2 separate regions of the Homo sapiens genome follow, and region 1 is linked to region 2. The links come from fine-mapping of genetic effects on gene expression. Tissue or cell type: whole blood. Region 2 holds a variant in brackets; the other region holds the start of a gene. All regions are shown on one strand. Distances are from middle to middle.

Region 1 (8,000 bases), 200 kb before region 2:
ATATTTTATATAAAATATGGAGTTGAGGGTTCTATGGCAGATCAAAACATGTGGAGATGTGGGCTTGTGTTGCTGCATGCTGTAGTGGGGAACCAAGGAGTGGGCATCCCCCTCAGCTGGGGCCTGTCCTCACCAGGCCCTTGTGACCCCTTGCCCGCTCCCCTCATTGAACTTCTAGGTGACCCCCAAAGGCTGTTACCGTGACCCCTGGGCAGCTGAGCTTGAAGACCTTTCCAGCTTTAAAATGCTCTGTTACCTTCAGATGCTGTGACCAGTGGTGACAAAGGAAAGGCTTAACGCCCTGGTAGGAGAGGGGTGGACATCAGTAAGAATATTTTGGTGGACAAGAGTCAAAGGAAAGGAAGAGTGAATTGGATGGGGCTGGGGCCTTGGCCTGGGAAACTCGTGTCATCGCAGAAGGTGGAGCTGGAAGGGACCTTGGAGGCCATCAGTCCTGTTATTCTACAGGTAAAGGAAACTGAGGCCCAGGGAGGGGCCTGCCAGGCTCAGGCTCTAAGGCCATTAGCTCATTCCTGACCACACTCACCCTTCCTTCTGCCTTGGCTCCACCCTCCTCCAGCCCCAGGGCCAGCACCACAGCCCACAGACCTGACTCTGTTTCTTCAGCTGGCTGCTGAGCAGGGGGCTGGAGGGATGAGCGGAGGGAGGTCTCCGCATGCAGCGGGAAGGCAGAAATGGGGATGGCACAGGGTTGGGGCTGGGTTCTGAGGCTTCTGGGATGCCAGTGTAGAGCCCCAGCCAGTCCTCCAGTGTGTACTCCATGTCTGCTGTGTGTGAGACAGGGGTCTGGGCACAGGGTGGGGATCCCAAGATGAATGAAACCATCCAGGCCTGCGGAGAGTCTGCAGCTGGCTAGAGCTTGGGAATGGGGCATTGGCAGCAGGCAGAGGTGGCTGCAGATAGGGTGGCACTGAAATTGTGGGCAAAAGTGTACAGGCAGGGCTGCCTGAGGCCCTTTTGAAGGGAAAAGAAGGAAGGTTTGGGAAGGAGGCAGTGAATGCTTACAGTAGGAAAATATGTTAGGATCCATTGACTAATTGATTGAGTGATTGAGTCATTCTTCAACCATGTCTGGTGCCTGCTGTATGCCAGGCTCTGGGGATACAAAACACAGGACACGTCCTTGCCCGTGTGTGGGTTGGGGTGGAGACACCAGGCTGTGAAGGAGGAATAAAGGCTGACAAGCCTGGAACAGGGTCATTACACACAGTTAGAGACACCTCAGTCGGCAGAGTTTAACATTCAACAGGGAAAATGGTGGTTAATTAGCAGGAAGGACATCTTGATGATAAGCGATTAATATACAGGAGAGACCCCATAGGCTTGGAGAAGAGGGATGGGGGTATTCTGGAGGGAGGGTTTCTCCAAGGGAACCCCCAGCACTAGGGTCCCCTACTTCCATTCACAGTCCTAGCTGAGGAGTCTGGGGAAGCAGCAGGGCCTCCTCGGGCTGTGTAGGAGGCCAGACAAGTTGGTGTCACTGTGACTTGGTTTTTGGTTTGATTTTCCAGCATTTCTGGGAAGCCCCAAGGTGACTTCTCAGAACTCCAGAGAAAGCTGCCTGGAGGCGTCTTCAGTGACGCCAGCAGTGAAGGGCTGTGGGAGCAGGCAGCGGGGAGCTTGGTGTGAGTGGGCACTGGGATGTCAGGGCTTAGCTGGCTGAAGGCTTGAACTTGTCAGGGGACAAGGGCAGCCTGGCAGAGCTGGTGATAGTGGCTGAGGAGGGGCTCAGGGGCTCTCAGAGAGGCCTCCTGAAGACCACTCCCCTTTGCTTGCCTGGTGCTCCAGCCAGGGGAGACGGGAGGGTTTGCAGAGGTTTCTGTCTATGGACATCCCCAGCTGTGACTGCAGGGCCAACTGCATGTGGAACACTGGTTCATTTCAGCGTTGGCTAAAATGTCAGTGAAGCCCCAGGAGGCTTAGAGTAGGGGGTCCAGAGGGACATTGTGATCCTGGCAGGGAAGGACACTAGAGGCAGGATCTTTCCCAGCCCCAGAGCTCTGGAGGACTTGGAGAAGTATGGAGAGAGGACCCTGACTCCTCTACCGGAACAAAGACTCTTCACTCAGGTACCTGCTTTAGGAAGGGCTGGAAATTGACACTTCACTTCAGTGTCCTCCCCTGACTTCTCAGAACCACCAAACAATAGATGGTTAGTCCCTTGTGCTGTGGACAACCTGTGTATCTGAATACTGCAGTCTTTTTTTCAGATGAAGAGTCAGTGTTTCCCCTTCATTCTGGGGTTTCCCAGGTAGATGTCTTGGGTGGTCCCTGGGCTGGGAGTTGGCACAAGTGGCTGGGCAGATCCCTGTGAAAGAGGAGGCTGGTAGTTGCACGGTATGTGGTGCTGACAGACAGCGGCATGGCATGGCCTTGGGTGAGTGGGGGGGGGAGGCAGGGGATCTGTAACCCTTCGTGCATGTGGCCCCAGGGCATGTATAGCACAGTGTGCATAGGAGGCCAGGCAAGAGAACTTTTCTTGCTAAGTGACTCAGTCTAGGAACGAGGTCTCCAAGTGCCTACTCTGGGAGGGCTCTTATGTGTTGACGTGAGTTGGACTGTGTCCTTGTGTGTGTGTGTGTCCACAGGAGGGTGTGGGGCTGAGCCCTCCCTCCTTCTCCTGGACAGCTCCAAAGAACAGAGCGGGTGATTCACTGGCCCCCACCCACCCTCAGTTGGTCCAGCCAAGGCCAGAGCTCAAAGAGGAAGGGTTTTTTTTGGAGGGGAACGTGGTGGTTCCAGACAATGAAGGCCTGGGGCAGACTTTGCTGGATTCCCCCTTAGTGCTCCGTGGGAATACTTTTGGGTTTTGACCCAGCCTCCTTTCCACCCTCTAGACCCCCAACAATTGTCCCTGGGCAGAGGTGGGGGCGAGGGGAGGGGAGGGCTGGTGGGCAGGGGACACTGAGGGGAAGAAATAGGCCTGTGGAATGGTGGGAGGGGAGAACTGGGCCCAGGGAGGGGGAGAGGGGAGGAGGGGGAGGAAGTGGGGAAATGCAAACCAAATGTTGGCCCCGGGTACAGTCAAGAAAAACACACTCTCGCGGGAGCCTGGAGCGGGGCTCCCTTTCAGAAGGGCAGGAAAGGCTGGGACAGATGTTTGCAGGAAAGAAAGAAAGAAGGGGGAAAAAAAAAGAAATAGGAAAAAAATTGGAATGAAACCCACAGCCTGGGGGCAGGGCCATTCTTCCCCAGTCTCGGGCCCTATTTCTTCTGTGTTAAGGCCTGTCCTGGGCTCTGAGCTTGGCGCGTGGGCACCAGAGTCTGTCCCAGTCTGTGTGTGCAAATGCATGTGTGTTCCGAGGAGGCCAGGAAGGCAGGCACGGGTACTCAGAGAAGGGGAGGGGCCAAGGCACCCTGAGTGTGCTGATTGTGTGGGCCTGGGGCTGTCTGTTCATCCATCAGTGGTCTGGAGGGTTCCAGGAGTGAAGGCCCCCAGGCTGGTTTGCCAGGGGCGGGGGTCTGCAGTGAGGAGGGAGGACTCCAGGCCTACCAGCACCAGATCAGAAGACTGAGGAGCCTTGGTGGCACACAGGGGTTGTGTGTCCGGGGGTGGGGGGCACGGCCTGGGGGGGCCCTGCCTCTGGTAGCTTTCCCTTTTCCCTGTCCCCTTTACACCCCCTGCAAAGCAGGGTTCCTGACCCTCAAGGCCACCGGTGGAGCCTGGGAGGAGGGAGGAGAGAGGAGGCTGGGACGAGGGGTGGAGTGGGGGGAGGAGGAGGAGGAGGGAGGGTGAGCTGGAGGCAGCAGGGCGAGAGGCCCAGCAGATGCTGGCGGAGCCGGAGCAGCCGCGGACTCAGAGAGCCCTTCTGCCAGCGCCGCGGGGACTCTAGCTTCAGGGGCTCTTCACAGGCCCTGGGCGTGCCTCAGTGACGGGACCCAGCAAAGATGACGTGGATCTGTCTGTCCTGCATGCTCTGGGTAGGTCTGGCTGCTTTAGCTGCGACGTTACTCTTCCTCAAACCCCCCGCCCCCCACCGGCCCCTGCCACCTTATCCTTTTGCTGAGAGCCCGGGGTCGGGGGGTGTCAGTCTTGAAGGAGGGGCCTTTCTGTCTCTGACCTACAGAAGGACAGACTGACTTGAGCAACCCTCAGCCGGAAGACTTTCCCCACCAACAGGGCCCAGGCCCAGGGTCCCGGGTCAGTACATCCCCTGCCCCACCCCCCCACCCCCCAATGGAGTCCCAGAGCTGTAAGTGGAAGGAGGCCACAGAGAAGTTTGCTTCTCTTTAGAGCCTTTCCTCCCGACTTGCATCCTACAATGGGGTGAAAATTCTTCACCGCCCCCCCTCAGTTGCTGAGCCCAAGATCTTGAGGAGGAGGCAGTGGTGGGGCTGGGGAGCAAAGAATAGTAGTCCAAAATATTAAGTCTGGAAGAGCTGGGCTGTGGGAGAATTCTCAGAGTCCATCCCTTTTATTCCTTCTACACCCAGTTTCAGCTTCCACCCACTGCCATCCCTTCCTCCACAGCCCTCCCCTGCTACCAAGACCTCTCCATCCTGGAGGAGGGAGCCATGGCCCGCTCTTCCCCCTTTCTCTCTTGGCTCCAGGTTCAGGGAGGTGGGTTTCAGGATGGGGATGCCAGGGGGGCCAGCAGAGAGGCCTGGGGGCCACGTGGTGAAGGTTAAAAGTCTTAAGGCCAGACCTGGGCTGAGGCTCCTGGGTAAAGGGGGATGGGAGAGGGCTGCCTGCTGCAGAAGGGCTGGGGGTCAGAGGAGGAGAGGACCCCTTCCTCAGAGGGGCTCCTGTGGGGCTGTCTTGGCCAGGCAAAGGCATGCATGGGGTCAGGAGGGTGAGGAAGTCGTCCCTGGCTGAGGTTACTGTTGGGCTCTGAGAGAGTGATGGCTGGTTTGGGGGAGGGGGCTTCAGGGCTGTGATCCAGATGTGGCCTTTCCTGTCCCTTTCCTTGTTCTGGCCAGTCCTCGGGAGGGCCCTCTTGGCCCAGGCAAGCCCATGCTGGGGGCAGTTGTGGGAACACAAACTCGGGCAGCCAGGTGTCCTCTGGGCAAAGAAAGAAAGGGTGGGGGAGGGGGCCTGGAATGAGGCGGTTTGGGTGGCATGTTGGGCTGGGGTGCTGGGATGGATTGGATTAATAGATTGAGAGTGACTGGGGAGGCCTGCACACAGGATGCATTTGTGGTTTACTGGGCTGGTGTTGACATCTGGGAAATGGGAGCCTTGGCCAGGTTCGTCTCTGTGCTGAGGACAGAGGTAGGCAGGAGGGAGCTCTGCAGCAAGAAGGATGGCAGGTAGACGTCCAGGGGTGACACAAGAAGGATGGCAGGTAGACCTCCAGGGGTGACGAGCTGCTGTGACTGGAGAGAGGGCTCTATAGATCCCTTCAGCTGACTGATACTGGGAAAAGTGCCTCATCCTGGTGAGCCTCTGCTTTCCCGTTGGTGAAATGAGGATTGCAGAGAAACAGGGTACAGAGAGGTAGGGATGAAATTTTGTATCCAATTCCCCAGGGCAGTGCCTGGCAGGTAGAGTGCCCTATGGGTGTTATACCCTCCCTGAGAGTAAGGGGAAGAGTCTGGGGACCAAGGCAGCTGTGAGTGCTGCTTCCTTGAGTGTCTTTATTTTTATTTATTCATTTTTTTTTTAATTGAGATGGAGTCTCACTCTGTCACCCAGGCTGGAGTGCAATGGCATGATCTTGGCTCACTATAACCTCTACCTCCTGGGTCCAAGCAATTCTCCTGCCTCAGCCTCCCGAGTAGCTGGGACTACAAGTGCGTGCCAACATGTCCAGCTAATTTTTTATATTTTTAGTAGAGATGGGGTTTCATCGTGTTGGCCAGGCTGGCCTCGAACTCCTGACCTCAAGTGATCCTCCCGTCTCAGCCTCCCAAAGTGCTGGGATTATAGGTGTGAGCCACTGCGCCTGGCCTTGAGTGTCTTTAAGACTAGAAAAGCCTGTGTCCCTCCCCTGTCTCCTTTTCCTCTCCTCTCCTAGTCCCCATCCTTTCTAGGCTGGCTGTGATGCCCATGGCCAGGATGGGCCAGAGACTGGGGCAGTAGGGACTGGACAGAGGAAGCAGTCCTGGCACCAGATAGGACTAGGCTCAAACCCTATTTCCATCGTTTGGTATGGGCAGGCTTGGTAAAGCAGTTCCCTTCATGAGCCTCAATTTCTTGATCTGTAAAGTGCAGAGAATAATATACTCCTTGTATGGCTAGGGTGGGGAAAGAGACAATAGATATCAAAAGATCAGGTATGTAGGCATGCAGTAGGTGCTCAGCAAATGCTGGCCCCTTTCCCACTCCACAGTCTCCTGCCTGGTTCTTGGGATCCTCTGTATCCCAGACCTGATGCTGGGGGAGGATCTCCCTGGGAATGGTGTCATGGGACAGGGCTCTACTCCTTGGGCTCTACTCCTGGGCTGACTGCCCAGGGACTCTGACCAGCTACTCTGAGGCCAGGAAGTGACTGAGATAGTTCTTGTGCCCTAGAGTGAGTGCTTGCATCTATTGGTTCACATGTTCCTGTATGGGGAAAGCTGCAATTGTGTCATCTAAGAAGTAATATATCTGTAGTGCATAGTTTTAACAAGTCCTAGGAATAAAAATCACTTTATTAGCTGAGGAGCAGAGCTATTTATTATGCATAACTTGATTTTCTCATCAAGTGCTCCCATTTGCTATTACATATTCAAGTACGGTTTATTTAGAAAATAATTGCATGCCTAGCAATTGAGGCTTTTTGATGTTGTGCTGGAGGAGTTAGAGGTGGAGGCCCTTCCTTCCAGAGGGACTCACTGGTCCTCAGGAACTGGGAAGGGGCTCAGGGTGAGGCTGAAAGAGCCACCAGGCAGGGGCTGGGGGTCAAGTGCAGCTTTGGCTCTGCCCTGAGCCAGCTAAGTGGTCTCAAGCTGGTCACTCGACTTTTCTGGACCTCACTGAAATGTGGGCTCTATTCTCTAAGGCCACATCCAGCTGCAGACGATGATGTATTTTGTTTCCTGGAGTTGGTGTCCTGCCCAGTGCTAAGCACACATTTTTGACAGAAGGGTCCTCATGAGCTCTGGATTCCTTGTGCACAATTCCGGTCATGCAGACATCAATCTGACTCTTTGGTCCTGAACTCGTTCTCTCTAGTTTGGTTGACCTGTAAGGGCCTCCTGACTGTGGGTTTGGGAGGTAGGCTGGGCTGCATGAGAATCACCAGGGTCTGAAATAAGACTCTCCTTTTGCAAAGTTTTGCAAAGTAATGTGTGAGGCACAAAATTGGGAAGAGCACTGCCCTTTTATTCTGCAGTGTTGAAAGGAAGTGTAGCATGCTGGCCGAGAGTGCAATGCCTGGGCTGGATCCCGGGCCTGTCACTTGACAGCTGTGTGACCATAGGCAAGTAGTTTCACATCTCTGTGCTTTGGTTTCCCCACCTACCTATAGGGTTGTTCGGTTTTGAATGAGCTAATCCACACATACATTTAGAAAAGTGTCTCTCACATGTAAGAGCTCAAGAAATGTTAGTGCTTCTTGTAGGATGGCACATTTTCAAGGCTACCCAGCAAGTCAGAGTCAAGACTCCAACCCCATCTGCTGCATCCTCTGCCAGGCTTCTCCATTCTGGGAATGCTTTGGGGCAGGACATGTGGGGTCCGTGGGAATCAAGCCCTGAGAATGACGCATGAGCCCTAAGTCAGCGAAGAGGACTGTGGCGGGCAGCCCAGGGTCAGGGCATGGTGTTGGGGAGGTCGTGTGATGGAAGAAGCATCCCATCATTTGGCTTTCTAACCACACCCCCCACGCAGCTTTCCATCCTTTTCACGGATTATTATGGAGGGCCTGCTCTCTTCAAGCTGCTTGCACATACTGGCACATGATTGCAAGCAGGATGGGTGTTACCAAGAGGGAACCTCTGGGGGATGTAAGGGGGACCTAACCTGGACTGTAGGGAGAAGGTGTCAGGAAAGACTCCTCGGGAGGTGAATTTTAAACTAGATCTAAAGATGAATCTGGCCAGGCACAGTGGTC
Region 2 (8,000 bases):
CTTCCTGCAGAGGGTCTGGGCATGGGTGGGGCTGGGCTCTAGGGAGAAAGTACGATGATTTACCCTGAGCCCACTTTCTCTCCACAGGTGGATGAAAACAGAGGGTGGTGCCCCTGCTAAGTAAGTGTGACTTCTTACCCCTGCCCAGCAGGCTGGCCTTTGTACTTCACAGTGAGGGAAGCACGGGGCACATTTAGAAACCAGGGCTGGGGGTAGGGAAAGAGCAGCAAAAACCTTTGTGCCAAGGTCACTCAGCTTCCGAGTGAAGCTTGACCAGGCTTCCAGGCCTTTTGCCTTGTCCTGCCTCGAGGCCAGAGGCCCAGCGTCTGGTCCAGCTGCCTTCACTCTCCCAGGGTTAGAAGCAGCAGGGATGGCAGGAAGTGGACAGAAAACAGTCTTATTAGAAGCAATGGAAATGGGTCAGAGATTGCTTACATGATCTTTTCTGCCCCAATTCTAGCTGCCTTTATTTCTGCTCTTGCTTTTTTGGTGGGCTTTCCTGTGAGTCTTGTGGCCGAGCAAATCAGCCTTATCAGAATGTGGGAGCCCAGAAAGTCTGAATTCTGGGGATGGCCCTGGGACCTTCGGGTGGATTCCTCCATCCAGCAGACATGTCCTAGGGGCCTCCAAGGGACTCAGATCCTGCCTGGGTCTCTGACCCTGCCCTCAGGAGGCCCATTGGCACAGCAGATAAGACAGATGTCTAAATAGCACTAAGATGCTTCTGTGATTTTCAAACTGTATTCCAAGGATCCTAGCATCCTTGGATTGTACCTGATGTACAGAAGAGAGGGAAAGCTCTGCTGCTCCTTGCAGTTGTCTATCAGCAGTAACTAGGGTTTTTTCACAATCACAAAACCAAACAAAATATAGGCATAACCTGGGGTCTGAAGCTGACATGAGACTATCACCATGATCTGTCATCTACTTTTCACTTTGTCAGGATTATTCCAACAGCCCTATTATCCTCACTGATTGACTTTATAATAGGTAAATGTCGTGCTTTTGGATTGCTGTTTATAGCTGTAAAATACTGCTTTCACCTTTATATATGCAGACTTCATATAAGGTTGCTTTAGAAAAACAAAACGTTCAGTGTTAAAAAAATGACAGTTGCAAGGGAGGGAGAGGCAGCAAGAGAGTTCAGCTTACGTCTGGGGAGCTCATGCAGGAGAACACATCAGCACCTCAGAGAGGTGGAAAGAGCAGATATTTAAGGACGGGTCTTCAAAGACAGGTTCAATTTGGACAGGTCAAAATGAGAATGGGAGTAGGAGGGGCTATTTCAGGGGAGGGGCCTCATGGCCACCAGCCTGCAAGCTCCCCAAGGGAAGGGCCATGTCTGACACATGGGGAGGTGGTATATATTTGTTGAGTGAAGAAATGAGAGAATGGAGGCTGGAAGAGCAGAGGCAGGAGGAGGCTAGTGAGAATGCCTCAGTCCGAATGAATGGACTGACTAGTCTATCACATGGTCAGTGATGGTAGCTTAGGAGAGGCCATGTGGGATGGTGGGGTTCAGCCTTGTCCAGGCTTCATAGGGTCATCAGTGCTTTGAGTTCCTGCATTTCCCGTGTCTCTGCTGGCCAAGGCAGCAGGCTGGAACTTCCTGTTTGAAGGGGCTTGTGCTCACTCACCACAGGGCCCTGCGAGGGAAGAAGGTCAGGGACAGAAGGGAACTGGGCCCCCAAGCCTGGAAATCCCTCTTTTCCTCCTTCAGGAGCTGGTTTTGAGTTGAGCCTCCTGCTGAAGAAGCTTTGATGGGTGGGGCAGAGGCCACAGGGAGAGGCCAAGCAGGGCAGTGGGCTAACAGGGAATCATGACAGGGACGAGGTGAGGCCAGCCAGGGATCTCATGTGCAAAATTCAAGGAGATGTTAGATCTTGGGATCTTGCAAGCGCTTCCTCCTGCCCTTGCGGGCTGAGGCTTCTTGCCTGGATCTATTCCTTGTGGCAGATGACAGGACTGGGCTATTGCGGGAGCCTGGAAGCCACAGCTGAAAGAAATATCAGGGGAGGGCAGGCTCGGTGCTCCAGTCAGGTGCAGTTGCCGGGTCTCCATCCTGGTAGACACCCGCAGCCAGGGCTGGCATGCTTCCTCCCTCTGCCAGGATCACCCCCACCCCTGCTCATGGTCTGAGCCAGCTGGGAAAGGGAGGTGCTGGGGGATGCCCTGTGGACCCCAGCTCCCCCACCACCTGGGCATTACCCCAGGCCTTTGGCCCTGTTGCTCCTGGCCCCTGAAACAAGACTGGAGGAGCAGAGCTGTAGGAAATGCTGGATTATGTGTGTGTGTGTGTGTGTGTGTGTGGTGTGTGTATATGTTGTGTTTGCGTGTTGTGTGTGGTGTGTATATGTTGTGTATGTGTGTGGTCTGTATATGTATGTATGCATGGTTTGTGTGTGTGTGGTGTATGTGTGTGTGGTGGTGTGTGGTGTGTATGTGTGGTGGTATGTGTGGTGTGTGCAGTGGTGTGTGTGTGGTGTATGCATGTGGTGATGTGTGTGATGGTGTGTATGTGTGTGGTGATATGTGTGTTGTGTGTGTGTGATGTGTGTGGGTGTGATGGTGTGTATGTGTGTGGTGTGTGTGGTGTGTGGTGGTGTGTGTTGTGTGTGTGGTGTGTGTGGTGGTGTGTGTGGTGTGTGGTGGTGTGTGTGGTGTGTGTGGTGTGTGTGGTGTGTGTGGTGGTGTGTGTGGTGTGTGTGTGGTGTGTGTGGTGTGTGTGGTGGTGTGTGTGATGGTGTGTATGTGTGTGGTGCATGTGTGTGGTGGTTTGTACACACAGGCACACAGGGACCAGCAGAATCCCCCTTTGCTAACTTCAGCTGCCGTGGTCCTGCGGTAGGGAGAGGGGTTTTCATAGGAATCTCCAGCTGTCCTCATTTCCCCATCTCGCTCTAATTAGCAACATGCTGGCTGGGAGGGGACCTGAGCTCACATTCTGTTCTCTGCCCTCATATTTTTAACTCTGTTTTGCGAAGAGAATGCTGGGTCACTCCAGTCCTGCGGGTGGGGGTGGGGAACGGGTGTGGGGTCCACCTTCCCTTTTATTTTCTGGCTTCCAAGGTTCTTGAGCCCAGGAAGAATAAGTGTGTGTGTGTGGAGGGGTGTGAGCTACTTGACCTTTGTCTCCCTGACCTTGTGGTGTCTGAGGAGGCTGAGCCGTTTGCAGGCAGACAGCACTTTCCTGATTGGCATATGTGTTGTGTGTAAGAACAGTCAGTAGGGGTAGGGCTGGGATGGGCGGGGAGAGGCCTGTCTAGGAATGTTCCCATTTTATTTTGGTCTCCTCCCCACCCCTCACTATCCAGCCTTGTCAATCCTCTGCAGCTCCCCTCGCACCCCTTCAAAGGGGATTTCTGCCCACCCTTAAACAAGGTGGGACACTGTCTCTAGGACTTGGCTTGTGGTCAGGGGAGTGCACAGAGGATTCTCTTCTGCACCTCTCTGAGTCCCTGATGCTGAGGCCTGCTGGAGGGATGGGGAAGAGAGGTTGGCCTGAGACCAGCTTGCTCACCTGGGCTGCTGTCCACCTCCTGGGGTTCCACTTGCCCTTCCCTCATGCCCGTTGCCCTCTCCCGCCTGCAGGCTCTTCGGCTTCGTGGCCCGGAAGCAGGGCAGCACCACGGACAACGCCTGCCACCTCTTTGCTGAGCTTGACCCCAACCAGCCGGCCTCTGCCATCGTCAACTTCGTCTCCAAGGTCATGCTGAATGCCGGCCAAAAGAGATGAACCCTGCCCCTTGCCCAGGGCCAGTGCCATGGGGAAGGGGCTTGTGGGGAGGGGACCCATGAATCCTGACCACTCTTGAACCCAGAAGGAGGACTTTGGGCCAATTTCGGAGGAGAGAAGAAAGTGCAACGTGGGGAGAGGGAAGTGAATTGCAGAGGGGAGGGGGAAAAGAGAGAGAGAGAGAGAGAGAGAGAGAGAGAGAAAGATGGAGGAGAAGAACTTGGATTCCCCTGGGTAGATGGAAACTGCAAAAACCCAAAGCCTCCAAAACTAACCAGGTCCACCTAACACCCCCTCCCTCCCCTAAGAAGATGGATGTCCTCAAAAGAGAAGGAACAAACCTCCTTGGGAATCCACATTTTTTGGGGGAATGGAAAAGCTCTGTCTCCCTAACTCAACTGCTTTGCAAGGGGAAATCAAGCTGGGAGAATCTTTTTCTGGCCACCTGT[G/A]GGGTAGGTTGTCAAACCAAACAGAGCCACCGTGGGACATCAAGTGGAAGAACTTGTTTGCTTGAAAGTATCTCAGACCCAAGGCACCTCAGGTCTCTTTGCTGTGCCTCCACTATATTGTCGTGTGGGTGTGTGTCTGCACCCACATCCTCACACATTGATCTAGATCTGCCTTTATCCACTCGAATTATAAACAGCTCGGCTTGTCCTTGTCCCATGTGTTTGTAGACACACATGCATACTGTCCAAAGATTAGGGTTGGTGGTGGCAGTGCAGCAGGGGAGGGACAAACAACCAAGCTATGGGTGACAGAGGCTCTCTCCTGGTGCCTGCACCTGCACTCTAGTGACCCTGGGTGCCGCCAGACCCTTCTCTTCTACAAAGACCCCAGCAGGAGTGGGAGGGTCTGCAATGGCATCGCCCTGTCCTGCCTTGGCCAGAAGCCTGGAGCTTTGGTTTGAGGAGGTAGAGATATGTGTATCCATAGGAAGAGATCTGTCAGAACAGGCAGCTGTTGAGCTCGGGGTGTCTTCCCCAAGGCATGTGGCTCAGCAGCAAGAAAGGCAAGTTGCTCCTGCTGGGGCCCTGGACTCTGCCTTAGCTCCCACCTCTCAGCCTTGTTATTGGGTTTCATGCCCCTGGACCAGCCTTATCTCAGACCTGCTTACCTGCATGATGCCTTTTTGGGGGCTGGGGATTGAGTCTTGCTGCTCTGCCCAGCCCTGTTCTATTCTGCAGGGTCCCTGTGTTGGAATTCTCCCTGGGGAACCTACTTTCTGCTCAGTGAGGCTCCGGCCAGAAACCTGGAGTCCTTATCCTCCCCTCTGTAAGTGTTTTAGGGTCTGGCTTTTGCAGGCACCCTCTGACCTCAGCAGAGCTCCTGGGCCTGCTGCCTGCACACCACATCGCCTACCTACAATGCCAAAGCCTCACTGTCACCCTTTCTGCCTTGGTTTCCCTAGCTGAGCCACGCTGCCCATGCAGCAGAGGGCAGAAGGCTTGCACTTGGGCCAAAGGGCCTAAGGTCCACTGGACAGTTGGGAAAACACCTGACCACCATTTAAGGACTCTAAGCCAGAATGGAAAATTCACCAGGACTCCATTCTTAAGCCTATGCGAGTCCCCTAGAGAGAGGCATTGTACTGATATATAAATATTATATAATATATACATGAGACATACTGACAGAATCTGTAAGCTAATAAAATGTAAGAAAAGGTTAAAAAAAGAATAGGTAAATTGACAAGAAGTATTTATTGTTTTTCCATATTGCTTTATTGCCTTCCTTGGGGATAAACCAATTCCTATCCTTTTTTATATGTGTAAGTAAAGCCTGAAGTGTAGGGGGCCTTTGTTCTTGAAGCAGCCAGGGTCTCCTTGCCCTGGCCTTGGCCTTCCCTAGACTGTGTGGGGCTCAGCATTGGGAGGGGTTGCACATGTCCCAGCCTTTGGCCCCCTTACTTTTCAGCAAGCCAGGGGCCCAGCAGTCAGCTCCCAGGATGTGTGGGGAGCTGTCCCTGACTCTGCAGGCCTGAGCGAGTGTGTGAGCATGCGGGGACATGGGTGTGTATGGCACACATAGGTGCGTGTGTGTCTTTTGTATTTTTTCTCCTCCAAGGAGCTGTGTCAGTGTGGACGTTCTGTTTCAGGGAGTTGGAAAGGAGGGTGTCTGCAGAAGGTGGAGAGCAGGGGCAGAGGCCCCACTGGCCACCCCCTGCTTCCCAGAGTGAAACCTTGTGCCTGGTGACCAAAGTCCCTCCAAAGTGCTCTTCCTTCTGGGTTATTCAAGCCAAATATCTGGGTTTCCCCCTCTCCTCATTCCCTAGCAAACCCCAATTATCTTCCAAGATAGGAGATATTTCCCATCCCCTTCCTTTGTAAATATCTCATCTCCCACTGGAGAGCCCAGGAGCCTATTCCTGGCATGGATGTTCTGTCCACACTTGAGGCTGGGCGGTGTATCAGACCCTTCAAGCAGCCTGGCTGGGGCCCAGGACTGAGTCTGGGGTCAGCTTTCACGGTCGCTTTTCCCTTCCTCACCACCCACCACAGCCCACCTTGCATGCATGGCCAGCCCCTCCACTCCAGCCTGAGCCATGTGTGCCCCTGCGGGAGGACCCATTCATGCCAGAAAGCTGGTAACTCCCTCCCAGCATCCCTGCGGAAGGAGTCAGTTTCTGAGAGTGTGACTTTTCAAGGCGAATGATGGGGAAGGGTTCCCCAGTCCCCACAGTGGCCCCACCTCTGGGCCCTGCACCAGAGCCCTTCTGTGTCACGGCGGGCTGTGCACCCATGCACACACCTACGCACACACAACACTCCGCACTGCAGTATATTCTTGCCAAAGATTTCCTTTAAAAGCAAGCACTTTTACTAATTATTATTTTGTAAATGTTTATCTTCTTCTGTCTTCTCCCTCCCTGAATCTATTTTACTGTTGTTTATTGTTGAATCTGTGTGTCAGCCAGGAGAGCGCTGTCTGGCCTTGAACATGGGCTGGGATGGGAAAGGGTCTGGGAGAAGATGGGCAACAAAGAGCCAGGGAGTCATGGACATCGCAGCGACGCAGACCCCAGCAGGTTCAGTCCCGTGCTGCCACCAGCTGTCCAGCTGGGTGTCTGGAGGGAAGAGGGCAGAGGAGGGTCATGTCCCTTCAGCTGGGGGAGGGGCCCAGTGAGCTCCACGTGGCTTTTTCCCAAAGGGAGCAAGAGGGAAGGATTGGGCGAGAAAACAATGGAGAGGGGACCTGCGAAGGAAAACAGGGAGGAAGTGAGCGGTTTGATCAGCCTGCTATCACGGTGTTCTGGCTCTCTTATTTAGCCAGGCGCTTAAGGGACAGATACATCACATCCTAAGTTTGGGAAAGGCCTTTGACCCATGTCATCTGAGCGTCTCCTCCAGTAGCTCTGAAAGCTGTGGACACCAATGGCCAGGATTCCTTCTCCCCTGGTTTTTGAGGATCCCTGGGTCTTCTGAGACTGGCCAGGAGAGGGATGGTGGGGCCAGTGGTTGTGTGAAAGCAGGAGGGGCAGCCCTCCTGGACAAGTGTGATCCCCCTATAAACGGCTCTCAGGAGGTTAGTGAGTAGGAGATTCTGCCTTGTTCTGATGAGCCTGTGCAGGGGCTCCAGGGGAGCATGCTGTCCAGGGGGCACAGAAGGGTGGTGAGTGTGATCAAATCTAGTCTCACTCCCACTTTTTAGTCTCACTCCTACTTTTGTCCACCACCCCTGCCTCCTGGATCTTCTCCCACTTTTTTTTTCAGCTTTAGGACCTGGGGAGATCCTGTGAGTCAAGGCAGACACCCAATCCTGCCCCCACACTCGGGGTCCTCCAAGAGGTTGGGGGGCAGAGTCCCAGAGCAGCCCTTTACCCCAGGTCCAGGCCCTGGAATCCTGAGACTCGCGTTTCCTTGGCCAGTGGTAACACAGGACGTGTGTGCGCATGTGCAAGTGTGGATGTATGTGTGTGCGTGTGTTTTGCTCATTTCTTTAGGGAACTTGGGAGTCGGGGTTGGAGGTGCTGGGCAATGGAACTTCAAATTCAATGTCGCCCAGCAGTGAGGGGAGTCGGGAGGTGAGGCCTGTAGGCCAACCAATTGGTGGAGTCTCAGCGATAGCCCAGGTGAGAAGTGGTTCACCCAGAGGGGCAGGGTGGGGGCCTCGGGCAGATCTGTCCCTCTTGGCACCTCTGTCCTCAAATGTCCAAAATGTTGGAGGACCTCTGTTCATATCCCACGCCTGGGCTCTTGCCAGCAGTGGAGTTACTGTAGAGGGATGTCCCAAGCTTGTTTTCCAATCAGTGTTAAGCTGTTTG

What was found. PIP is the estimated chance that this variant, and not a neighbour inherited with it, causes the effect.
Region 1: TNS1 starts here. The variant in region 2 is fine-mapped to the expression of TNS1 in whole blood (TOPMed, PIP above 0.99).

The regions. Positions count from the first base shown.
Region 1 is chr2:217,998,782-218,006,781 of GRCh38, reverse strand. It overlaps TNS1 (tensin 1), which reads left to right and starts at 3,787. Exons shown (of 33, transcript NM_001387777.1): 1 at 3,787-3,942. The coding sequence starts at 3,910. RefSeq lists enhancers at 2,502-2,601, 4,342-4,842, 4,843-5,343.
Region 2 is chr2:217,800,195-217,808,194 of GRCh38, reverse strand. It overlaps TNS1 (tensin 1), which reads left to right. Exons shown (of 33, transcript NM_001387777.1): 32 at 88-120; 33 at 3,592-8,000. The coding sequence ends at 3,736. Among named protein-coding and RNA genes, the nearest start is that of DIRC3, 14 kb to the right of the region's middle. The variant G/A (reference allele first, on the strand shown) is at 4,186.